Linked DNA regions of Homo sapiens. The protein of the gene in region 7 purifies or fractionates together with the protein of the main gene of each other region. This does not show direct contact. Each region holds a gene or a part of one and is shown on either strand. Other genes may lie near its edges.

Region 1 (3,500 bases), on a different chromosome or scaffold from region 7:
GATTTCAAGTTTTTTTTGGCTTGAGCAACTGGATTTGTGCTCATAGATGGAGAAAGGGTAAGAAGATGGTGTCCTGGGAGACTCTGACATTTAGAGATCAGGAAGAGGAGATGTGTCTGGAGAAGGAGACCAACAAGGAGTCGTCATTGAAGTAGGAGAAAAATCAGGAGAGTGGAGTTGAGGAAAAAGAAAAAACTCTTTAAGTAGGAGACTGATCATGTCAAATACAATTTAGACATAATTATCATGGGGACTGAAAGCTGACCCTTACGCCTGGCCATTTTGAGTACAATTTGACAAATGTGGTTTCATCCAAATGATGTGGGCAAAGTCTGCTTGGAGTAGGCTTAAGACAGAACAGGAAAAGAAGTGAAGATGTACAGAGGCAACTTTTTCAAATGGACCATGATGGGAGCCATAAGATCAGTGGAGTATGAAAACAAACATATAAATGATATTACCTCATATTTATGTGCTAGTAGGAACAATCAATAGAGAGAAGGAAAAATTGCTGATATTTAGATTTAGAGTAGATAATTGCAGGATAATTGCAGGAATCTCCTTGCTTAGGGGAGAGGATGGGATCTAGTGTACAAGTTGAGGGGTTGGTCTTAGAATATATTGGGTTGATTTTAGTCCATCCCAGATAATAGAAGAAAAGGCAGAAGATAGGCAAATAGATCAAGGCAAGTTAAAATTTTGTTTCTCCATTCACAAGTTATGTGAATTTGGGTAAGTTATGTAACCTCTCTGTTACTTTTCCTATCTTTAAAAGAGAGAAAGTAATAGTATCTATCACATGATGTTCTTTAGAAAAAATAATTAAAATGACAAATAATTTAGCATAGTATTTTGCATGCACACAAACATGCAAACATGTTTCAATGAAACATAAATATTTTTTGCAAACTCATGAATAATGTTGGGTTAATTTTATGATTATTTTGTAAATGAAATATCAGGTTTTTACATGCCATATTGCCTTGTTCACTGTCTCTGTAGACTGGGAGTTAGCAAACTAAGGCTGTGGGCCAAATGTAGTTTGCCTGTTTTGGTAAATAAAGTTTTACTGGAACATAACCATGCCCATTCGTTTATTGTAGCTGCTTTCAAGCTACCTCAGCCAAGTTGACCACTTATTACAGGCCCACAGAAGCCTACAATATTTGTTATCTGGCCCTTTTCAGAAAAGTTTGTCAACTCCTGCTCTGGCTATTATTACCAATCTATCTTGTATCCTCTGACAGTCATATACCCCTTGAAGTTAGAGGTCATGTTTATCAGTGTTTGTATCCTTCTTAAGCTGTAGGTGACTTTAAGTAAATATTTATGGATGCCATTCAGATATTTTAGAAGTTTCATTTTTTTTCTCCAAATCATTATGGATGATGGAAAGCAAGAGTGTGTGGGAAGAGACGGCATCTTTCTGAGGTTTTGTACTGACTTCATGTACTAAAGTTTTGCATGTCACTCAGAGTAAAACTAAGGCTCTGCAAAAGCCCATGAGACCTGATGCAGCCTCACCCTCCTCTAACTCTCTAGTATCACCTCCTGCTCCTCTCTTCCCATCTCACTCTCTACCAGCCATGCTAGCCTCCTTATTCTTCACACTAGGCAAGTGTACCCTACTCCAGACTTTGGAACTCCCTGTTTCCTCTGCTTGCATGGTTGGCTTTTTCACCCACTTCAGGTCTTTAATCAAATGCCATTTTCCACTGGGCTACCCTATCTAAAATCACATCCTTGTTCTACCTCCTCCTAAAATTCCTTCTTCCCAAATTTTCTGCATTACATAGTCAGTTATTTTGTTTATGGCTTGTCTTCCCCAAGTAGAATATAAGCTCCATGAGGTTAGAAACTTTTTGTCTGTTTTGTTCACTGCTGTTTACCCAACATCTAGAATAGTGCCTGGCAAACAATAAGTGCTCAATAAGTATTTTGGGTTGAATGAATTCCCCATATTTGGTGATAAGCAGAAATTTCTCTTACTTGATTTCAGAATGCCATTTCCTTCCTTGCACATGGCAAGGAGCGTAATCCTTTCCCGTGACAACATTTGAGCATTTATACAAACCCGTAAGAAGTCCTCAGCCTTTCTCTGTTTGATTTCTCAGTTGACCAGGGCCTTGTTACTCAAAATGTTATTTGCTGACCAACAGATCAGCACCAGTATCACCTGAGGGCTTGTTAGAAATGTAGACTTATGGGGCTCAGGCAGACCTACTGGATCAGAGTCTGCAGTTCTACAAAATCCCTAGATGATTTGTGTTCCTGATAGAGTTTCTAGAGTTTGTAGAGTTTGGAGAACCACTGTCTGTCTTCGGTTATTTGATATCTGCTTATCGTTGGTTTAGTTCAGGCTAAAGGTTTTGCTTTGCTTTTGGCAATTATTTTATCATAGCCCTTTCTGTAAAGTATTTTATTTATGTTCTGTTTTTAAGTTTATTTTACTTTTTACTTTTTTTAAACTTCTATTTCCTATTCTTAAGGATTAGAAACTGCCAGACTGACAGCTTAACCAACTGACAGCTGACAGCAGTTTAGTGGACAGATTGTGCTGCAAACAAAGTCTTCTCTAAGTTAGGGATGGCAGGTATTGGCAAAAATGCTGTCGTTACTCATCTTGTGAGCATGGCAGATATCCTTGTCCACCATGAGATACTTTACCTTTGAGCTTACACTTGGCCTATTATCCATCCCTGTGTCATACTTCATATAGCCTATCCAATGGCATGAATGAACAGGTAAGACTCTGAAACCTATTTGTTATTACTTGGCGTCAACTACACAAAGGCCCATTCACTTGTTGTGTCATTCCCCTAATACTTATTGAGGGTTTGTCTCATGTTCAGCTCTGTGCTATGTAAAGGAGCATCCCAAATAGTTCCTGGGTTTTTGTGAGGTTTGAGGGTAAAACTGTGCTCCAGAGTACATTGTAAATATACAAATATGAACTGTTATTTTTAATTTAAATCCTAGATAGTCCCTATCTCATAAAAGATAATCTCTGATATATTGAAAGTTCTAGATGCTAAGTACAATAAAGTTTCTTTATTTAGACTAATGCTTAAGACTGTTGTTAAGATTTACCAACTTCTCATGAGACAATGAATACAGCAAGAAATTTTTGCTAGAGTGACCTTAAAATTATGTCTTGTGGTTCTTGTTTTCTTATATCCAATAATATTTAATTCTAACATGAGAAAATTTATGTATTAAACTCATGTTTTTTTAGGACATGGAATCCTCTGCTTCTTATATAAATGGGATTCTATACTCTTTCAAGGTAGAAAAGAATTTAAGTTACATTTGTCTTGCAATTCAGGCTTCTGGAATAAAAATATGCCATTAATTCATATGAATCCTCAAGGTAGATGCTTTATGTAGGACTCCTCAGAAGTTGTCTGTCCTCAGTATGAAACAGAAGGTTGTAGATAGAGAATCAAAGACAGCATTTCCTCTATTATTGTCTCTGAGAAGTATTCTAGTCAACAACCTCT
Region 2 (3,500 bases), on a different chromosome or scaffold from region 7:
GGGATATGTTCTGAGAAATATGTTGTCAGGCAATTTCATCAATATGTGAACATCATAGAATGTACTTACAGAAACCTACACAGTATGTCCTAGGCTATGTACACCTAGCCTACATGGTATATACCCTGTTGCTGCTAGGCTACAAAATACCTGTACAGCATGTTACTGTACTGAATACCATAGGCAATTATAACACAATGGTATTTGTATACCTGAACATTTCTAAATATAGAAAAGGTACAGTAAAAATATGATATTAAAGATGCTCCACCAGCTGGCTGATATGCCTATAATCCCAGCACTTTGGGAGGCTGGGGCAGGTGGACTGCTTGAGTCCAGGAGTTTGAGACCAGCCTGGGCACCATGCCAAAACCTCGCTTCTATAAAAAGTACAAAAATTAGCTGGGTGTGGTGGCATGTGCCTGTAGTCCCAGCTACTTGGGAGGCTGAGGTAGGAGGATCACTTGAGCCTGGGAGGTCAAAGCTGCAGTGAGCTGTGATTGGGCCACTGCACTCCAGCCTGGGCAACAGCGAAACGCGGTCTCAAAAGAAAATAAGGTGCTACACCTGAATGCAGCTTATAGGACAACTTATAGAGGTTGTTCTAGTTGAGTGAGTGGTGAGTGAATATGAAGGCCTAAGACATTACTATACACTACTATAGATATTATAAATACTTTACACTTAGGCTACACTGAATTTATAAAAATAATTTTTCTTTCTTGAATAATAAATTAACCTTAGCTTACTGTAACATTTTAAATTTACTTTTTAATTTTTTTAACTTTTTGATTCTTTTCAATTCTTTTTTTTTTTTTTTGAGACAGAGTTTCGCTCTTGTTGCCCAGGCTGGAGTGCAATGGTGCAGTCTTGGCTCACCACAACCTCCGCCTCCCGGGTTCAAGTGATTCTCCTGCCTCAGCCTCCTGAGTAGCTGGGATTACAGGCATGTGCCACCACGGCCGGCTAATTTTGTATTTTATTTTATGTTATGTTATGTTATGTTATGTTATGTTATGTTATGTTATGTTATGTTATTTTTTGAGACGGAGTCTCGCTCTGTCGCCCAGGCTGGAGTGCAGTGGCGCGATCTCGGCTCACTGCAAGCTCCACCTCCCGGGTTCAGGCCATTCTCCTGCCTCAGCCTCCCGAGTAGCTGGGACTACAGGCGCCCGCCACCACGCCCGGCTAATTTTTTGTATTTTTAGTAGAGACAGGGTTTCACTGTGTTAGCCAGGATGGTCTCGATCTCCTGACCTCATGATCCGCCCGCCTCTGCCTCCCAAAGTGCTGGGATTACAGGCGTGAGCCACCGCGCCTGGCCTATTTTATTTTTTTTAAAGACAGGGTCTTGCTCTGTCGCCCAGGCTGGAGTGCAGTGGTGCAGTCTTGGCTTCGTTGCAACCTCCGCCTCCTGGGTTCAAGTGATTCTCCTGTCTCAGCCTCCCAAGTAGCTGGGATTACAGGTGTGTGCCACCATGCCCAGCTAATTTTTGTATTTTTAGTAGAGACAGGGTTTCACCATGTTGGCCAGGCTGGTTTCGAACTCCTGACCTCAGGTGACGTGCCCACCTCGGCCTCCCAAAGTGCTGGGATTGCAGGTGTGAGCCACTGCACCCAGCCTAATTTTGTATTTTTAGTAGAGATGGGGTGTCTCCATGTTGGTCAGACTGGTCTTGAACTCCAGACCTCAGGTGATCCGCCCGCTTTGGCCTCCCAAAGTGCTGGGATTATAGGCATGAACCACTGCGTCCAGCCTGGATATTTTTAAAGTGAGGTTAATTGAATGGGTATAACGGTCTTAAGTTTGTCAGTGATTGTTTAGTAGTGATCTTGAACACATTTCAATTTCTTTGTTTCTCCTTAACTCATCTGTTTATCTTTTATTATAATTTGTAATTTTTCTTATAAATTAGAATGATTAAGTATATCTCAGAATAAAAGACCAGTTTTGGCCAGGTGTTATGACTCACACCTGTAATTCCAGCACCTTGGGAGGCTGAGGCAGGTGGATTGCTTGAGCCCGGGATTTTGAGACCAGCCTGGGCAACATGGTGAAATCCCATCTCTACAAAAAATTGCAAGAAATTATGGGCCAGGTGCGGTGGCTCATGCCTGTAATCCCAGCACTTTGGGAGGCCGAGGCAGTGGATCACCTGAGGTCAGGAGTTCAAGACCAACCTGGTCAACATGGCGAAACTCCATCTCTACTAAAAATACAAAAATTAGCTGGGTGTGGTGGCACATGCCTGTAATCCCAGCTACTCAGGCACCTGAAGCAGGAGAATTGCTTGAACCTGGGAGGCAGAAGTTGCAGTGATCTTAGATCATGGCACTGCACTCCAGCCTGGGCAACAGAGCAAGACTCCATCTCAAAAAAAAAAAAAAAAAAAAAAAAAGCCAGGTGTTGTGGTGTGCACCTGTAGTCCCAGCTACTCAGGAGGCTGAGGAGGGAAGATCACCTGAGTCTGGGAGGTCGAGGCTGCAGTGAGCTGTGATTATGCCACTGCACTCTAGCCTGGGTGATGAAGTAAGACCGTATCTCAAAAAATACCAGTTTTTATGATAGAATTTACTTAGTTGCAGAAGAGGGGTGGCAAGGGGAATGTTAATTTGGCTCACTGTTTCCTGAACCTGAAAGAACCAAAGAATTAGCAGTGTAGTGTCAAAAGTTAAATAAAATTTCTTTTTTGTTTAGGAAAATAAAAATATAAACATTTTAGATTATCATTGTTTATCTTCTAGAGGATCTCTGGGAAAGTTTAGAAAATGCTAGTGGTAAACCTATAGCAGCTGTGATGAATACCTGGACCAAACAAATGGGATTTCCCCTCATTTATGTGGAAGCTGAACAGGTAAACATATAAAGTCTTTCCATTTGTCTGATATTGTATTAAATGAAGTTCAGTACAGTGTATCAAGTTTGCTTTTCTGTACTTTAAGTTTTCTAGTGACATTTAAACCAGCCCTGTTACTCTTTTATCAGTAATTTTACAGCTTGCATCATTAAAATTATACATGCTTAAGAGAGAAAACAAAATGTTACTTGCTTGTCTAGTCTCCAGGGAAAATACTGTAAAATTTGATATAATTCTAAAACCACCAAATATGGTTTATTCTACAAATGCAAGGTTGGTTTAACATTTTTTAAAAAATTAGGCCGGGCGTGGTGGCTCACGCCTGTAATCCCAACACTCTGGGAGGCCGTGGCGGGTGGATCACTTGAGGTCGGGAGTTTGAGGCCAGCCCGGCCAATGTAGTAAAACCCTGTCTCTACTAAAAATACAGAAATTAGCTGAGCATGGTGGCACACACCTGTAATCCCAGCTACTCTGGAGACTTAGGCAGGAGAATTGCTTGAACTCGAGAGGTGGAAGTTGCAGCGAGCCGAGATTGTGCCACTGCACTCCAGCTTGGGCAACAGAGCGAGACTTCGTCTCAAAAAAAAAAAAAAATCAATGTATTGATTTATAATCACTACATAAACAGAATCAAATGCA
Region 3 (3,500 bases), on a different chromosome or scaffold from region 7:
ACTTGGAAAATCTCTTTTCTAGATTAAATATAAGACACCTCAACCTATAGGAGAAGTATATTTTGCAGAAACTTTTGATAGTGGAAGGTTGGCTGGGTGAGTATTCATTCAAGAGAATGTTTTCTTTGATTTATTAGCTTTTTTGAAGTTATTAGGTTTTGGCCTATGAAAATTATCTCTACTACAGATCTATAAAAAATTTTAAAGTAGTTTAATTGACAATGTAAATCAGTACTTAGTATATTTTTGTAATTGATAGAATGTTTAATTTGAATAGTTATTTATTCAAAGAAAATATACTAATTCCGAATGCAAAGATGAAATTTATAACATTTCTTTATTCTCTAGGACAGATTAACACTCTTAAGTTCAGATGACAAATATGAGTACTGCTCTACTCTAAATAATGGAAAAAACAAAAGTTAATATTAAATGATTATTATGTGTCAGATGTCCTTAAAAAAAGTAGATAATTACCATATTTAATCCCCATTTTACAGGTGGAGAAACCGAGGTTTCTTGTACCTTACCTGTGATCATACAGCTAGTAAATTATAGATTCCAAATTCGGTTTAACTCTAGCCCTTCAGGATTATGTGTAGGCATCCTTATTTAGCATCTAAGTATGAATTTATTGTTGAATGAAAAGTGACTGTATTGGGTGATCTTTTATTGTGTTTCTGTATGCCTTATATCTATAAATTGCTGCTTTTATTGTCAATGACATATATGTATGTTCAACTTTATTTACAGATGGGTCTTATCAAAAGCAAAGAAAGATGACATGGATGAGGAAATTTCAATATACGATGGTAAAATATTTATTTAAGTATTAGATATAACCAGTATGGCCTGGAGTTCACTAAACTTTGAGATTAGATTTTTGTTAAATTGTGTTGGCTGGAGTCCCCCACCCTGCCTCACAATAAAATGTTCAGTCTTTTATCTTGTCCCTCTTCAATATTTCTGAAAAACCCTTCGCTATTTCTGAAAATCTCACTCTTAAGCCAGTTAATCTAGTTTTCTAACTGAACAGTTGAATTTTCACTCTACTGCTGTTAGTCTTTTGCATTTCCTGAAGCAGTATTTCCCAGGCTACTGCTGTCTCTATGGTTTCATCTCAAGCATAGACACACCTTGATCTATAAATTAAATAAATTATAATTTATGGTAAGATTCTCCTAGCAAGTAAAAAGCAGAAGATAGCTAATGAGAGCTACAAGATATGTGGCTGCTTCTGGAATCCTCATCTCCAGGTCTATATCCATTATCATAGGGTGTCTAATAGGATTATCTTCAACCTTAGCTCTAGAAAGAAATGTCCTATAGGCAGGGGTCATATTGTCTTCCCTAATAGGACTACCCTAGAGTATGACCAAATATTTTCTTCTTTGTGGTCTAAAAACCAGCCTCCTTGATTGTTATATGCTGAAGCAAGATCAGCCTCTTCTCACAGTGACTGATAGTGGTAATTTCTTCTTTCTCAGAGGACCTCATACTCATAAACATGTGGCCCTGCACTCAGACTCTGATAAGCAGTTACATCACAACAGCAAAACAGATAGCATGTTGGATGTCAGCTGTCTGCTTCCTTTTCATAGTTTCTGTTTAGTGTAAGATAAAGATCATACCTGCATGTCTTCCTTTGCATGGTGTTCGCCATCCCAGCAAATCCCCTGTGTATATATATACACATATATACATATATACACAAATATATATACATATACACATATATGTGTGTATATATATGTGTGTGTGTGTATATATATATATATATATATATATGCTTATCAACTCCAAAAAGGACACCACCATATGCACAGAAAAAGCAGTAGTGGGATTTCTGGATCAAATAGTAGATCTACTTTCAGTTTTTTAATAAACCTCCATGCTGTTTTCCATAGAGGCTGTATTAATTTACATTGCACCAGCAGTGTATAAATGTTCCCTTTTTACCACATCCATGCCAATTGTTTTTTGACTTTTTAATAATGGCCATTCTTACAGGGGTAACGTAGTATCTCATTGTGGTTTTAATTTGCATTTCCTTGATGATTAGTGATGTTGAGCATTTTCTAAACATGTTCGTTGGCCATTTCTATATCTTCTTTTGAGAAATGTCTATTTATGTCATTTGCCTACTTTCTGATGGGATTAATTTTTTTCTTGCTGATTTGTTTGAGTCTCATGATTCTGGATACTAGTCCTTTGTCAGATTCATAGGTTATTAATATTTTCTCCCACACTGTGGGTTATCTGTTTACTCTGATGATTATTTCTTTCGCTGTGCAGAAGCTTTTTAGTTTAATTAGGTCCCATTTATTTATTTTTGTTTTTGTTGCATTTGCTTTTGGGTTCTTGGTCATGAATTCTTTGCCTAAGCCAATGTCTAGAAGAGTTTTTCTGGTGTTATCTTCTAGAATTTTCATGGTTTCAGATCTTAGGTTTAAGTCTTTAATCCATCTTGAGTTGATTTTTGTATAAGGTGACAAGTAAGGATCCAGTTTCATTCTTCTATATGTGGCTTGCCAGTTTTCTCAGTACCATTTATTAAATAGGGTGTCCTTTCCCTAATTTATATTTTTGTATGCTTGGTCAAAGATCAGTTAGTTGTAAGTATTTTGCTTTATTTCTGGTTCTTTATTCTGTTCCAGTGGTCTATGTGTCTACCTGAGACCATTACCATGCTGTTTTGATAGTATGGCCCTGTATAATTTGAAGTCAGGTAATGTGATGTCTCCAGATTTGTTCTTTTTGCTTAGGATTACTTTGGCTATTCAGGCTCTTTTTTGGTTCCATATGAACTTTTGGATTTTTTTTCCTAATTCTGTGAAAAATGTTTTTGGTATTTTCACAATAATCACACTGAATCTGTAGATGGCTTTGGGCGCTATGATCATTTTCATGATATTGATTCTTCCAATCCATGAGCATGGGATGTGTTTCCATTTGTTTGTGTCATCTATGATTTTTTTCAGCAGTGTTTTGTAGTCCTCCTTGTATAGATAGATCTTTCACCTCTGTTAAGAATATTCCTAGGGATTTTTTTTTTTTTTTTTGCAGCCATTGTAAAAGTCATTGAGTTCTTGATTTGATTTTCAGTTTGGTCGTTGTTGCTATGTAGCAGTACTACTGATTTGTGTACATTGATTTTGTAAGCTGAGACTTTTATTGAATTGATTTTTCAAGTCTAGTAGTCTATTGGATGAGTCTTTTGGGTTTTCTAGGTATGCAATCATATCATTAGCAAACAGTGATAGCTTGACTTCCTCGTTTCCAATTTGTATGTCCTTTATTTCTTTCTCTTGCCAGATTGCGCTGGCTAGGACTTCCAGATAAAGTTGTTACTTCTTAAAATAAGACCTTTATAGGGGGCGAGAGGCAAACTACAAGTTAGTGATAATACAATTCACCATCAATGTGAGAGAAAGAAAACCAAGTACATTAATCTTTTTCAAAAAAATATAATATGACCAAATCAGGGGGAGAAAGAAAAG
Region 4 (3,500 bases), on a different chromosome or scaffold from region 7:
AAAGTGGTGGAACCAAGACACAGATATAAAACTTCTCACCCTAAATCCCGTGCTTTTCTCATTATATCACAGCTAATGAGTAATATAATGAGAGTGTCACATCATGGTAGAAGGACTAAATACTTCATGCCATCAGATGGTAGATTTCTTACTCCTAATCTGGTACTGTGAAAAAATAATTGGTGAAATAGTGACAAAATGGGTAAAAGTCAACATGGATATTAAGAGACTGTACTATTAAGCCTACAGTGCCTCCTTCTCAAAATGCTTAACTACTACATTAAGCAAAAAATAGTTAAAAGTGTTAGTCCTAAAGTTAGCAAGAAGATACAGTGTATTTTTATTGGATTACAAATATACATGAGAATACTCCAAGAGATGCATATTTTATATAAAAACATTCATATCACATCCATCAGTAAATGTCCTTAATTCTTAATTATCTGCGTCCAGTTGGAAAATTTTGTATTTTCTTGTGGCTCTCTCTCCCTTGCTATCTATGAGGGGGCCTGGAAAATAAAAGGGTAGAATGCAAATCTGTCAATGTGGTTGCTTATATTTTTCTTTCAAAAGTCTCCATTGAGAAAGTAAGTTGAAAAATGGTAACAATGTACTTACATAAATGTCTCCTAAATTATCTTTGTTGTCTGACTCTATTAGGAAGAATTATTTGTGTAGCAATTTTAAGTAGGTACAATCCAAACCATGCAGATCTTTTTTGTTTGGTTGTTTGTTTTTCTTTTTTTTTGTCAAAGTCTCACTCTGTGGCCCAGGCTAGAGTGCAGTGGCATGATGGCTCACTGCAAGCTCACTGCAAGCTCCGCCTCCCAGGTTCAAACTATTCTCCAGCCTCCTATAAGTAGCAATATATGCCTCTCCTACTCTCCTGAGTAGCTGAGATTACAGATGCACACCACCACGCCTGGCTAATTTTTGTATTTTCCCTAGAGATGGGGTTTCACCATGCAGATCTTGTAAAGCAGCGGTCTTCAACCTTCTTGACACCAGGGACTGGTTTCATGGAAGACAATCTTTCCACAGACTGGTGGCAGGGGATGGTTTCAGGATGATTCAATGATTCAAGCACATTTATTGTGCACTTTATTTCTATTATTATTATTATATCCTCACCATATTATTATTATATACTCACCATAATGTAGAATTAGTGGGAACCCTGACTGTTTTCCTGCAACTAGACGATCCCATCTGGGGATGATGGGAGACAGTGACAGATCATCAGGCATTCGATTCTCTTAAGGAACACAAAACATAGATCTCCTGCATGCACAGTTCACAATAGGGTTTGCGCTCCTATGAGAATCTAATGCCGTGGCTGATCTGACAGGAGTCAGAGCTCAGGCAGTCATGCTTGCTCGCATGCCCACCACTGCTGTGCAGCCTGGTTCATAACAGGCCACAGACAGGTACCCAGGGACCCCTGCAGTAAAAGACTCTAACCAAGAGCTGCTTCTCTCCCGAAAAGTAACAGTATACGTCAAGAAAGCTGCAGCAATATATTTATTGCAAAGGAACTAGACATTACATTAACCTGATGAAGATGTAACGATGCATGAAGCATAACTGGTGCAACATTTTTTAAAAATCACAAATGAAAAAGAAAATTCATTTTCAAAAGAAAATATTGTATCCAAGTCAGCTTAATCTCTGAACACCATAATATAACTCTTAATGTTGATTCTAAACATCCAGGATAAAGTTTACTTTAAACTGAATAAAAGAAAGAAAAGGTTTCTTTCCGAACTTCCCCAACAGATTCCTTGGCTACCATCGGTGCATCACACCCATAAAGTAATTGTCATCAACAGACCGTAAAAAGAAAAAACCCCTCCTACAAATAGAGAAATTCTCAGGAAATCCAAGCAACAAATCAATTAGTAGCCCCCAATTGAATGGGGCAGACAGAATCAGCATTTTCTAGAACTTAGAAGTTACATTAACTTTATTAATAAGATTTTATTGTCTTTTAAGAAACTGTATGGATTCAAGGGCACACTGAGCTATAACAAGTCATTATATACACACTGGGTAACAGTGCGGAGGGGGTTTCAGATGTTTGTCATCTGTTCATCAAAGCTTTCTGAAACCCCTAGAGCTTTACTATTCTACTCTATAATACATTTTCACTGTGTATAACAAACTCCCTTTGAAGAAAATTACCCCAGATAATCCATCTGTGAAAATACAAGTACTGCAAAAAGCAGTGAGGATAAATACTTTTTGGAAAGGCAAAAATGCTGCATCAACTTTCAGAGGCACTATCATAGAATCATCTCTGAAAAAGAGAACTGCAAATGTACTTTGAAAATTACTTTCCTTGCCTATACCCAGCATGCGTGAATGTCATCTAATGAGCTATTTGTAGGCTGAGGAAGTGAAGAGTTGAAATGCAGAATTGCAGGTTTTAGTTGAGCTGGTAACACTGGTACCACTTTCTTTTTTCCCTTCCAATGGATTTCAACAGTTTGTTCCTAAACATTTCACAGTTCTCAAAACTTTTCACATAAAAGGGGAAGATTATTAAAGCTTATTAGATTCTGTCAATTGGTCAAAAGAAAAAATGTATTTCAACACAGCTTGTCATCTTTGGAAAAAATCAATCATAATTACGTTTCCTTATACTGAATTTAAGGTAGAGAGACCTAAATTACAAGCACTCACAATTTGGTGGGAAAGTGGCAAATCCTTGTCATTTGGTGACTGTGGCACCAAATAAAGAGGAATTCATTCACAACTGAATGAGTTATTCAAATAAAAAAAGCAGAAAGCTAATCTAGACATTTTAGGTCCTAAATTAAATTTTTCAGGTGTGATATTTTTAGTTTGAGTAATAATGCTGGTCTAGTTTGCTAAAAAATTAGCAACATTCTCCTTTACCTTGAGCTGGGTAGACTCAGCCACAATGTCCTACTGTCTCTTTATGTATGTTTAAAGTAATGCCTAACCAGACTCATAATGCATGTAGATGCAACATGCTAGTTGGCACAAAGCAGGCAGGGAGAAATGACCCTACCTTCCCAAAAAACTCACAGGAGCATGACCAGTAATCATTTTCCTCATATAGACAATGTCAGTAGATATCAAGACAGATACACATAAAGTTACATAAATGTTTCCACCTTTTCACCATTGAGTGAAACATGCTGTTCTTTGGAGAAAAAAATACATTCATTTTTTTCAAGTATATTGCAATATACAAAGATGCTCTGGCTTTGTTTCACTATAAAGACAAAAAGATTTCACATATGTCCAAGGGAAATTTCAGTTTACCTTTCCTTTGGTGTGGATTTCATGAAGTTCTGACTAAAAAAATTAATCTAAATATACATCTACTCATTTTATCTGAAAGCATGAACTATGTTCATTTTATATATATATTTATATGTACATAGCAACAACAAAAACCAGTCTACATATGTCCAATGGCTTAGGATTGGCATGCTCTGATGAGCACGAGGTCCACCTGCTGTGACTAGGCG
Region 5 (3,500 bases), on a different chromosome or scaffold from region 7:
AACAGAACAGATCAGAGCAATAAAAATATTCTGCAATACAATCATCTCTATACAATGCAGTTTTAAGTGTAGAATCATGTCTTTCAAACCACACAGTAAAATCTGAACTGGAGTTTTGATATACAACTCGTATGGCTTGAAATGAGAACCGTGAAAATATATTAGGCTAACAGATCTGTCAATAGTCCCTTTCTACATGGAAGACATGCTCACATAATATGTCAGTGATTTTCTTATTCTACAGTGGCATAATTTTCCATAAGAAAATTATTTTGTATAAGCTGAGTTGGGTAAATAACAGTAGTGGCTACAAGTTTTTAAGTTTCATAACTGTGAATTCAATATAAAATTTGACAAAGGTTATCCTACACAGAGTGCTTAGCAAAAGAAACCAATTGAGTTCTCCCTAATAGCGCAATTAACTTTTTATCCCGACAAGAGAAATGCTTTGTTTTACCTTTGGATTGTGTAAAATAATAATTTCTCTGTTGGGAGATTCCAGTTTCTTTTTCCATTCATCCAAAGTTACAGCAAGCATGTAAGTTTCCTTAAAAGAAAACACATTTCATTAGAGTTCTCTAGTAGCTTTCCTATTAAACTGAACCTATTAACAAGAATACTATGTATTAATGAGTTTCAATAAGAATATCCTACTCCAATTTATCAAATTTATTTTTAAATCTTTTTGTTGTTGTTGTTGTTTGTTTTGTTTTGTTTGTCTTACTCTGTCGCCCAGGCTGGGTTGCAGTGGCACAATCTCGGCTCACTGCAACCTCCGCCCCCCAGGTTCAAGCAGTTCTCTTGCCTCAGTCTCCCAAGTAGCTGGGATTACAGGCACCCGCCACCACATTCGGCTAACTTTTGTAGTTTTAGTAGATACGGGGTTTGGCCATAATGGCTAGGCTGGTCTCAAACTCCTGACCTCAGGTGATCTGCCTGCCTCGGCCTCCCAAAGTGCTGGGATTACAAGCATGAGCCACAGCACCCAGCCTATTTTTAAATTATTTTGAAATTACAACTGATAGTAGCACCAGGACAAAGGGGGAAAAATACTCCTAATTCCATCATCTACGCTAGATAATTAGTGTTCACATTTTAATATATTAATATTAATGTTCTAGACCAGGCGTGGTGGCTCATGCCTGTAATCACAATACTTTGGGAGGCCAAGGCAGGAAGATCACCTGAGGTCTGGCATTCGAGACCAGCCTGGCCAACACGGCAAAACCCCATTTTTACTAAAAATACAAAAATTAGCCAGTGTGAGCCGGGCGCGGTGGCTCACGCCTATAATCCCAGCACTTTGGAAGGCCAAGGCGGGTGGATCACCTGAGGTTGGGAGTTCGAGACCAGCCTGACCAACATGAAGAAATCCCATCCCATCTCTACTACAAATACAAAATTAGCCAGGCATTGTGGCACATGCCTGTAATCCCAGCTACTCGGGAGGCTGAGGCAGGAGAATCGCTTGAACCCAGGAGGCAGAGGTTGCGGTGAGCTGAGATCGCGCCACTACACTACAGCCTGGGAAACAAGAGTGGAACTCCGTCTCAAAAAAAAAAAATTAGCCAGTGTGGTGAGGCACGCTTGTAATCCCAGCTACTTAGGAGGGTGAGGCAGGAAAAGTGCTTGAACCCAGGATGCAGAGGTTGCAGTGAGCCGAGATCGCACCACTGGACTCCAGCCTGGGCAACAGAGTGAGACTCTGTCTCAAAAACAAAAACAAAAACAAAAACAAAAAAAGCAAAAAAAAAAAACCAAAAACAAGAAAAAGGCTGGGCGTGGTGGCTCACGCCTGTAATCCCAGCACTTTGGGAGGCCGAGGCGGGCGGATCACGAGGTCAGGAGCTTGAGACCATCCTGGCTAACACGGTGAAACCCCGTCTCTACTAAAAATACAAAAAATTAGCTGGGCGTGGTGGCGGGCGCCTGTAGTCCCAGCTACTTGGGAGGCTGAGACAGGAGAATGGCAAGAACCCAGGAGGCAGAGCTTGCAATGAGCCAAGATCGTGCCACTGCACTCCAGCCTGGGAAACAGAACGACACTCTTGTTTCAACAACAACAAAAAATACTAACGCTCTACTCCAATTTAAAGAAAAATTTCAGTTTTCAGAGCAAGAAAAATAAAAGCTAAAAAAGATCAATCCTGTGACCATAGCATAATACAGTTTGCATTTGTATTTGTGTGTGTGTGTGTGTGTGTGTGTGTGCGCGTGTACTTTTTTTTGTAGTGGTGGGGTCTTGCTTTGTTGCCCAGGCTGTTCTCAAATTCCTGGGCTCAAGTCATCCTCCTGCCTTGGCCTCACAATGTGCTGGGATTACAGGTGAGAGCCACTGTGCCCACCAGTTTTTTTTTTTTTTTTTGAGATGGAGTTTTGCTCGTTGCCCAGGCTGTAGTTCAATGGTGCGATCTCCACTCACCACAACCTCCACCTCCCGGGTTCAAGCAATTCTCTTGCCTCAGCCTCCCAAGTAGCTGGGATTACAGGCGTGCACCACCGTGCCCAGCTAATTTTGTATTTTTAGTAGAGACGAGGTTTCTCCATGTTGGTCAGGCTGGTCTCAAACTCCCAACCTCAGGTGATCCGCCCACCTCAGCCCCCCAAACTGCTGGGATTACAGGCGTGAGCCACCAGGCCCGGAGTATTTTTTTCTTTTTTTACACCTTAAAACACCACAACCATTTCCATCGTATTTTAAAATCTGAAAAAGGCCAAGCACAGTAGCTCACACCTGTAATCCCAGCACTTTGGGAGGCCGAGGCCAGCAGATCATTTGAGGTCAGGAGTTCGAGACAAGCCTAGCCAACATGGTGAAACCCCATCTCTAATAAAAATCAGTAGGAACAACTCTCCCATTACAATATTTTCCTTTCAAGGATTGAAAAGGGGAAAAGAAGTACATATTTCAAAATAAATCTCCCAACATACAATTCTGAGTTATATTCTAAATAATGTTATGAAACACATGAATGAACAGTTCCTACTTGGCTAAACACCAAACAAAATGGAATCTAATTCATATCTTTTTCACTACCTACTTTACAAACCGTCAAACCATTCCTGATTTTAATGAAACATGAAAAAAAATACTACCCAAACAGTTTTGTTCTTTTTCTGAGGAAAGATAGCAGTGCCCCTTAAAAAAAATTAGCCAGGTGTGGTGGCGGCCACCTGTAATCCCAGCTACTTGGGAGGCTGAGGCATGAGAATCACTTGAACCGGGGAGGTGGAGGTTGCAGTGAGCCAAGATCGCACCACTGCACTCCAGCCTGGGCAACAGAGCGAGACTCCGTCTCAAAAAAAAAAAAAAAATCTGAAAATAAGACTACTTTATCCTGAAACTTGCTTGTAAATAGAAATGCTTTATTATGTTTTATAATGTGATGCAGACAGAACCAAAGTCTTTCTGGAAATTTCACAAAATAAATTACAAAGGAAAGAAAAGATTATTAAATAAGAGAAAGAAAGAATAAGTAAAAAAAGAGTCAAAAGAATAC
Region 6 (3,500 bases), on a different chromosome or scaffold from region 7:
TCAGCGTCTACTAAATCAGGATTCCCCAGCTGTCTGAGCTTCCCGTAAGCGATTTTAGTTAACCACCTACAAGCCAACATTTCTTGCATCTGATTACGCTCTTTAAAGTCTAATTTCCCTTTTGCTTCCTAGTTATTTTGCAACATGTGAGTCATTGGGATTCATCATTTTTACAGATTATTATTTTTTCACTTACTCAACTAGTTTATTAATATTTTGTTCACTTAGTCACCAATTTATTTCTAATACATCGTTCTTAAGCACCAACATAAAAAGGAATTACTCAATTTGCCTTTGATGAAAATACGTGGGCCATTCTGATTTTGTGATTTTTCTTTCTTATTTCTTTAATTTTTCCTCACACAGCTTCCAAGGCTAAAATCTGCACTTGTAACAGTGTACTGACTCCCTTGCCCTTTAAGTCAGCACTTAGCTCAGGCTAAGGTACTATTGCAACCGTAATCTGATAAAGGAAGAGACAAGTTGAGTGCAAATAAAGATGAGTGCCAGGAATGAGAAAAAAGCTACTGATGTTTATGCCCTTTTATAGTCCTGATTCCATGACAGTCTTAGCCAAAAGCAGAGTGGAAGAAGGGAGAACGCTTTAAAACAAAACAAAACAAAAGCCAAGAAGAGGGTAAAAACATTTAAAGGGTAAGCATTTTATTTGCCCATAATTGGAAATAATATGGGACACCGTAATGGTAATTGTGCTCAGCTAACACTGACCTTTTTTAAAAATCAAAATTTTCATGATAGTGAAGACAACACATTTAAAAGTTGACAAATTAGCAAGAGACTTCGTGATATATATGTGAATTCCTCATTGTTGATATGCCCATGTATGGTTTTCATATTTATTAAATATAAACAAAAAACATCATGATTCGAGCATCTGATTTTTTGAAGTTTCTTTAAAATTATCTTAATCCTCTCCAAAACCCATTAAGCCATCTACATTCTCATTTCATTACATGGATAAGCATTGGCTTTAATAATGCATTTTAATGTACCTCCTCTTCGTTGACACAACCACATTTTTCTACTAAAATAAATAACTAAACTAAAATGAATAATAAACAAAAATAAAGGCAAAGCTCTTCCTCAGATTCTTTTATTCAAATGGCAATTAGACCTACATATTATTCACCAGTCTTAGATATATTTCAGATTTCCAAATTGGCATGAGAAAATCAATTCATCAATTTGCTAGCATTTTTAATTTATGGACAATTATTTTCTTAAAATGGTATGTAATCAAAATACTGAGTTAAAAATTCTGAAAGAGTCATTTAAGAACAACAACAAACAACAACAGCAACAACATTTTATCAGCATGGCAAGGAAATGACAACTCCATTTCAATTAAAGGATCATTGTCCATTCTCCCCCAGTTCCCATTAGTGAGGAATGGGGTTCATAATGACAGAGTGAAAGTGAGGCATTGAGGGAGAAGGCAAAAGATCACAAAAGAAAGCAGGAATACATTGATTTCTAAACCAAATCCAGACTACTAAGAACATTGGTTTTCTCAGGGCTTACTATCATTACATATACTACGCAAAGTCACCTTCAGAGGTTGTAGGCCTCCAGAAAATTGCTCTGTGTGTTCCGTTGCCTACTGAAATTCCCAAGTATTTTGAACGAGTGATATCAGATTAAAATAAAGATCGAGCTCAGAGTTGAATAGAAATTATCCCTTAAAATGGCAGCCTAAACAGAAGATGTGAGCTATAAAAGAGGGAGTACTGATCTTTGTGTTTTTAATGGGAATGAGGTAGAGGTTGTATGGCCGTGAGATGAGGACTCTTTTTATTTTATTTTTTTTTAACTTTTAAGTTCAGGGCTACAAGTGCAGGTTTGTTACATAGGTAAACTTGTGCCATAGGGGTTTGCTGTACAGATTATTTCATCACCCAGGTATCAAGCCTAGTACCCATTAGTTGCTTTTCCTGATCCTCTTCCTCCTCCAACCCTCTACCCTCCGAAAGGCCCCAGGGTGTGTTGTTTCTCTCTATATGAGGACACTTTTAAGCATAAGACAGCAGAGCCATTTCCCTTCCTCATTCTCATTTGTCTGCTGCCTATCAGAATTGTGCTTAAGAAAATTTATATGCCCTTAAAACGCTGGAGCCAAATGTATTTTTTTGGTCTTTTTGTTGGGCCATATTCAAGGAAGTAATCTTGAATGGGGAAACAGAAAGGCTATGCCCTGGGTGTTAAAGTATTTCATAATCTCTAGAGGAGCCATCTGGTTTAAGAAGGCACATTGAATGCTATAATATGCTGTAATATATGAGGGAAACAGACTTTTTATACTATCAAGCCTTTCATGAAAAAATTTCATGAAAAAATAAACAAAATCATTTTAGCTTTTAATCTTGGAACTATATTTAGTATAGGAGTGATTCACAAATAGCAGAGTTACTCTCCCATTCGAAGGGGTTATCAGAATCTCTGGAAGACACATTCACTTTTAGTATTAAGTAGAGGGAGCTTGAAATTTTGCAAGGATTTTAGGGACAATTCTATAAGTGACATAAATAGAAAAAACCCTCCAAACTTGGTAAAATAATAAATTATCCCATGGTGTTGCCATTTTAACTTTGATATCTGTATTAAAATGAAACTTCAGAACTCCAAACATATGTCAATATTTTATAGCATGAAACCCCAAGGAAGTCTAACTAATAGATGTTTTACGTAGGGAAAAGGTGAAGACTACAAACTATTTATTTGCTTGGTTTGTTTGTTTTTTGAAGATCAGTATACTGCATTGAGCACACTCTACAAGGGGAAATATTTTCATGAAACCTGGTTGCATTTAATAAAAACGTTTATTTCCCACACTGCAGCCCATGACCTTCCCCAGAAAATATTCCAATACGAACCAACTGCCTTGATAACAGAACACAAACCTCCTAGGACTATAGCAGGACTTTGTGAGAAAGAAAACCATTGCCTCTCTCTGAATCCAATCAAAACCTGAATGTACTGTATAAAAATAAACCAAGGTCATCATTATTCCTTGTCATTGTGATTTGGCGTGCCTTCAAATTATATACCCTGTATATTTCAAATAACTGCACCGCCTCCATTAACTGAGTTTGACATCACTTTAATCAATGTATCTTTTCAGAATGAAAGGCAGAAATGTCAAATTCCTACCATTATAAATTCTTTTAACTCTCTAATCTGCATTAAATAAAAGGTTGTCTTTGAGAAATAATAAATGCTCTAAAGAAATATAACTAGCATCAATTTTATTTTAAAATGTAACTGGGAAAAGATTAAATGTCAACACATCTCTTCATACAGAGGTGATTTCCCAAGAAACTATTAAAGCCTTACTTACATGAGGGGCCCCTCCCAAGGCTGTATCCAATTTTCTATTATTTTTCTTAAAATAGCACCCCCAATTGTATAACCTCAGGCCCCATAAATCCTTTCTTCCTGGTTCGTTCTGTGTTGTCAGACAGGGAATGTACATTAGTCTCATT
Region 7 (3,500 bases):
GCCAAGCTGAAGGCTAGTCAGCCCTGGGGGTAGGAGGTGACCAGGACACCTGAGTTTCTAAAGGGGCTACAGCCCAGAATCACAGGCAGAAACCAGAGACCTGGGCTCTGAGAGGGGGCAATGGGGTGTCCGGATGTCCGAGGAGGAAGGAGGATTTGCAAATGGAAAGTTGTCAGGTGACATCTGCGACCAGGCTAGGGCTGTGCTGTCAGGCTCCTGGCCGGCCCACTCTGTCTGTTCCCAGGGTCTCCTTTTAGACCAAGCTATCACTATTACAGATACAGACAGGCCAGCCACAAATCACACTGGGGCGTGGGGCATGAGCTGAGATGTCACTCTCCCAGGCAGGTACCTACTTCCCCAGAGGCTGGAGGTGGAACAAGGAAGGTGGGGAACCTTAGACCAGCCCACTTCTGCCAACATCCAAGTTCCCCCACTCCTGGGAGCCTCCTGTCCTTGTCCAGATAGATAATCTGTAACTGGGGCTGGGCGCGGTGGCTCATGCCTGTAATCCCAGCACTATGGGAAGCTGAGGCAGGTGGATCACTTGAGGTTAGGAGTTCGAGACCAGTGAGGCCAACATGGTGAAACCCAGAGTCTACTAAAAATACACAAAAAATTAACCAGGTGTGGTGACACACACCTGTAATCCTAGCTACTCTGGAGGCTGAGGTGGGAGGGTCTTGATCCGGGGAGGCAGAGGTGGCAGTGAAGTGAGACCGTGCCACTGCACTCCAGCCTGGGTGACAGAGTGAGACTCCATCTCAAACAAACAAAACAAAAGACAAAGATAATCTGTAACGGGACAGGAGTTGGGCCAAGAAGGAGGGCATCTGCCCATCAGGGAGTTATCTCTGGCTCCCCATCCATCTCCCCAGGAAGAATCTAGGGAAACCCTGGTCCCCTGACCCACGACTCAGCCAATGGTTCTGACATGTCTGAGCCTCCCTTTTCAGTTTGTGTCCCCCCCATATTTTGGGGTGACTCCTGGGTTAAAACAAGGTAGGATACAGGCTCCACCCACCAAGCTAAAGGCCAAGCAGTCCCGAAAGACCACATCCTTTTACCCCCTCAGAGGCCCCCACTTCAGTCTGGGGAATCAGATAGGCAGGCAAGGGTGTGGGTACAGCCTGCCCACACGGGGACTCACCATGCAAGTGTAAAATGTCATAGGTTGGGCCAGGCGCAGTGGCTCACGTCTGTAATCCCAGCACTTTGGGAGGCCAAGGCAGGCGGATCACAAGGTCAGGAGTTCGAAACCAGCCTGGCCAGCATGGTGAAACCCCGTCTCTTCTAAAAATACAAAAATTAGCCGGGCATGGTGGCATGAACCTGTAGTCCCAGCTAGGCAGGAGAATCGCTTGAACCCGGGAAGCGGAGGTTGTGGTGAGCTGAGATCGTGCCACTGCAATCTAGCCTGGGAGACGGAGCGAGACTCTGTCTCGGGAAAAAAAAAAAAAAAAGTCATGGGTTCCCTGACTCAGGCAGTGACTCACCCAGACCCAGATCCATGCAAGGGGGTGCCCAGAGCACAGGGTCCTTCGCACCATGGCCTGGCCCTCATGCTCATTCACACTCCCTGCCCTAAGCAAAAAGCCAAGTATACTTTGGGAGGCCGAGGTGGGCAGATCACTTGAGGTTAGGAGTTCGAGACCAGCCTGGCCAACATGGTGAAACTCCGTCTCTATTAAAAATACAAAAATTAGCCAGGTGCGGTGGCTCACGCCTGTAATCCCAGCACTTTGGGAGGCCGAGGCAGGCAAATCACAAGGTCAGGAGTTAGGGACCAGCCTGGCCAACGTGATGAAACCCCGTCTCTACTAAAAATACAAAAAATTAGCTGGGCGTGGTGGCAGGTGCCTGTAATCCCAGCTACTAGGGAGGCTGAGGCAGGAGGATCGCTTGAACCTGGGAGGCAGAGGTTGCAGTGAGCTGAGATTGCGCCACTGCACTCTAGCCCAGACAATAGTGCAAGACTCTGTCTCAAAACTAAAACAAAATAAAAATAAAAATACAAAACAGCCAGTCATGGTGGAGGGTGCCTGTAGTCCCGGTTACTCGGGAGGCTGAGGCACGAAAACCCCTTGAACCCGGGAGGCGGAGGTTGCAGTCAGCCAAGATTGCACTACTGCATTCCAGCCTGGGCGACAGAGCAAGACCCTGTCTCTAAAAAAGAGAAGAGAAGAGAAAAGAAACCCGACTACAAATATCCCAGTCTGCCTGGGTCACCAGTATGTAATCTGGTAGAAACATACCAGGATAGCTCAACTGTCCCCAGGGGAAGAATATGTACATTGCACCCACCAAAATGGACGCTTGGGGTCATTTTGGGTCATGCATATTTGTGCACGAGGGTATAAAGTCCAAGTACACACACTGAGCTTCGGAGGGACCCAGCACCAGGGACCCTCACGTCCTGTTTTGGTTCCGGCCATCCATTGAGTCCTCCAAGGATCCTGCAGGGACACTGCTCAGTTGCTTTACCTAAGAATGCTGACCCCAGGCTGGGTGCAGTGGCTCAGGCCTGTAATTCCAGCACTTTGGGAGGCTGAGGCAGGAGGATTGCTTGAGCCCAGGAGTTTGAGCAGCCAGGACAACATAGTCAGACCCCATTTCTACAAAAAAATCTAAAAATTTGGGCCGGGTGCGGTGGCTCACGCCTGTAATCCCAGCACTTTGGGAGGCCGAGGTGGGTGGATCACGAGGTCAGGAGATTGAGACCATCCTGGCTAATGCGGCGAAACCCCGTCTCTACTAAAAATACAAAAAATTAGCCGGGCATAGTGGCAGACGCCTGTAGTCCCAGCTACTTGGGAGGCTGAGGCAGGAGAATGGCGTGAACCTGGGAGGCAGAGCCTGCAGTGAGCCAAGATTGCACAACTGTACTCCAGCCTGGGCGACAGAGCGAGACTCCGTCTCAAAAAAAAAAAAAAAATCTAAAATCTTGCCAGGTGTGGTGGTGCATGCCTGTAGTCCCAGCTACTTGGAAGACTGAGGTGGGAGGATTGCTTGAACCCAGGAGTTAGAGGCTGCAGTGAGCCATGAACCAGCCTGGGCAAGACCCTATCTCAAACACAGCAAGCAAAACACTACTGACTGGGGCCGGGCGCGGTGGCTCTCGCCTGTAATCCCAGCACTTTGGGAGGCCAAGGTAGGCGGATAATTTGAGGTCAGGAGTTCCAGACCAGCCTGGCCAACATGGTGAAACCTCGTCTCTACTAAAAATACAAAAACAATTAGCCAGGCATGGTGGTGGATGCCTGTAATCCCAGCTACTCAGGAGAGTGAGGCAGGAGAATTGCTTAAACTCGGGAGACAGAAGCTGCAGTGAGCCAAGATCTCGCCACTGCACTCCAGCCTGGGCGACAGAGCGAGACTCCGTCTCAAAAAAACAAAACAAAACAAAAACTCCTGACTCTGGAGGCTGCAGAAGAAATCACACAACACACACACACACACACAAACACACACACACACACACACACCCGAGCAGGGACCAA

The links.
Region 1: the proteins of LRRC8E (region 7) and OPRPN purify together in Homo sapiens (affinity purification with mass spectrometry; one large-scale study listed by BioGRID and IntAct). This does not show direct contact.
Region 2: the proteins of LRRC8E (region 7) and NPEPPS purify together in Homo sapiens (affinity purification with mass spectrometry; 2 studies listed by BioGRID and IntAct, with this or other methods). This does not show direct contact.
Region 3: the proteins of LRRC8E (region 7) and CLGN purify together in Homo sapiens (co-immunoprecipitation; one large-scale study listed by IntAct). This does not show direct contact.
Region 4: the proteins of LRRC8E (region 7) and TBC1D4 purify together in Homo sapiens (affinity purification with mass spectrometry; 2 studies listed by BioGRID and IntAct, with this or other methods). This does not show direct contact.
Region 5: the proteins of LRRC8E (region 7) and DDHD2 purify together in Homo sapiens (affinity purification with mass spectrometry; 2 studies listed by BioGRID and IntAct, with this or other methods). This does not show direct contact.
Region 6: the proteins of LRRC8E (region 7) and DMD purify together in Homo sapiens (affinity purification with mass spectrometry; 2 studies listed by BioGRID and IntAct, with this or other methods). This does not show direct contact.

What each region holds. Positions count from the first base shown.
Region 1 is NC_000004.12:70,400,940-70,404,439, reverse strand, and holds part of OPRPN (opiorphin prepropeptide isoform 1 precursor), read right to left. Parts: intron 1-3,500. UniProt on the Homo sapiens protein: Opiorphin is an endogenous inhibitor of neprilysin and aminopeptidase N. Inhibits the breakdown of substance P, Mca-BK2 and Met-enkephalin by neprilysin in vitro with IC(50) values of 29 uM, 33 uM and 33 uM respectively.
Region 2 is NC_000017.11:47,593,608-47,597,107, forward strand, and holds part of NPEPPS (puromycin-sensitive aminopeptidase), read left to right. Parts: intron 1-2,745; coding exon 2,746-2,855; intron 2,856-3,500. UniProt on the Homo sapiens protein: Aminopeptidase with broad substrate specificity for several peptides. Involved in proteolytic events essential for cell growth and viability. May act as regulator of neuropeptide activity.
Region 3 is NC_000004.12:140,407,149-140,410,648, reverse strand, and holds part of CLGN (calmegin precursor), read left to right. Parts: intron 1-22; coding exon 23-96; intron 97-753; coding exon 754-812; intron 813-3,500. UniProt on the Homo sapiens protein: Functions during spermatogenesis as a chaperone for a range of client proteins that are important for sperm adhesion onto the egg zona pellucida and for subsequent penetration of the zona pellucida.
Region 4 is NC_000013.11:75,283,170-75,286,669, forward strand, and holds the end of TBC1D4 (TBC1 domain family member 4), read right to left. Parts: 3' UTR 334-3,500; downstream 1-333.
Region 5 is NC_000008.11:38,234,585-38,238,084, reverse strand, and holds part of DDHD2 (triacylglycerol hydrolase DDHD2), read right to left. Parts: intron 548-3,500; coding exon 458-547; intron 1-457. UniProt on the Homo sapiens protein: Diacylglycerol (DAG) and triacylglycerol (TAG) lipase required for proper lipid homeostasis in the central nervous system. It cooperates with PNPLA2/ATGL in neuronal TAG catabolism and hydrolyzes sn-1,3 DAG downstream of PNPLA2/ATGL.
Region 6 is NC_000023.11:33,205,050-33,208,549, forward strand, and holds part of DMD (dystrophin), read right to left. Parts: intron 1-3,500. UniProt on the Homo sapiens protein: Anchors the extracellular matrix to the cytoskeleton via F-actin. Ligand for dystroglycan.
Region 7 is NC_000019.10:7,891,510-7,895,009, reverse strand, and holds part of LRRC8E (volume-regulated anion channel subunit LRRC8E), read right to left. Parts: intron 1,438-3,500; exon of another isoform or gene 1,151-1,437; intron 491-1,150; exon of another isoform or gene 1-490. UniProt on the Homo sapiens protein: Non-essential component of the volume-regulated anion channel (VRAC, also named VSOAC channel), an anion channel required to maintain a constant cell volume in response to extracellular or intracellular osmotic changes.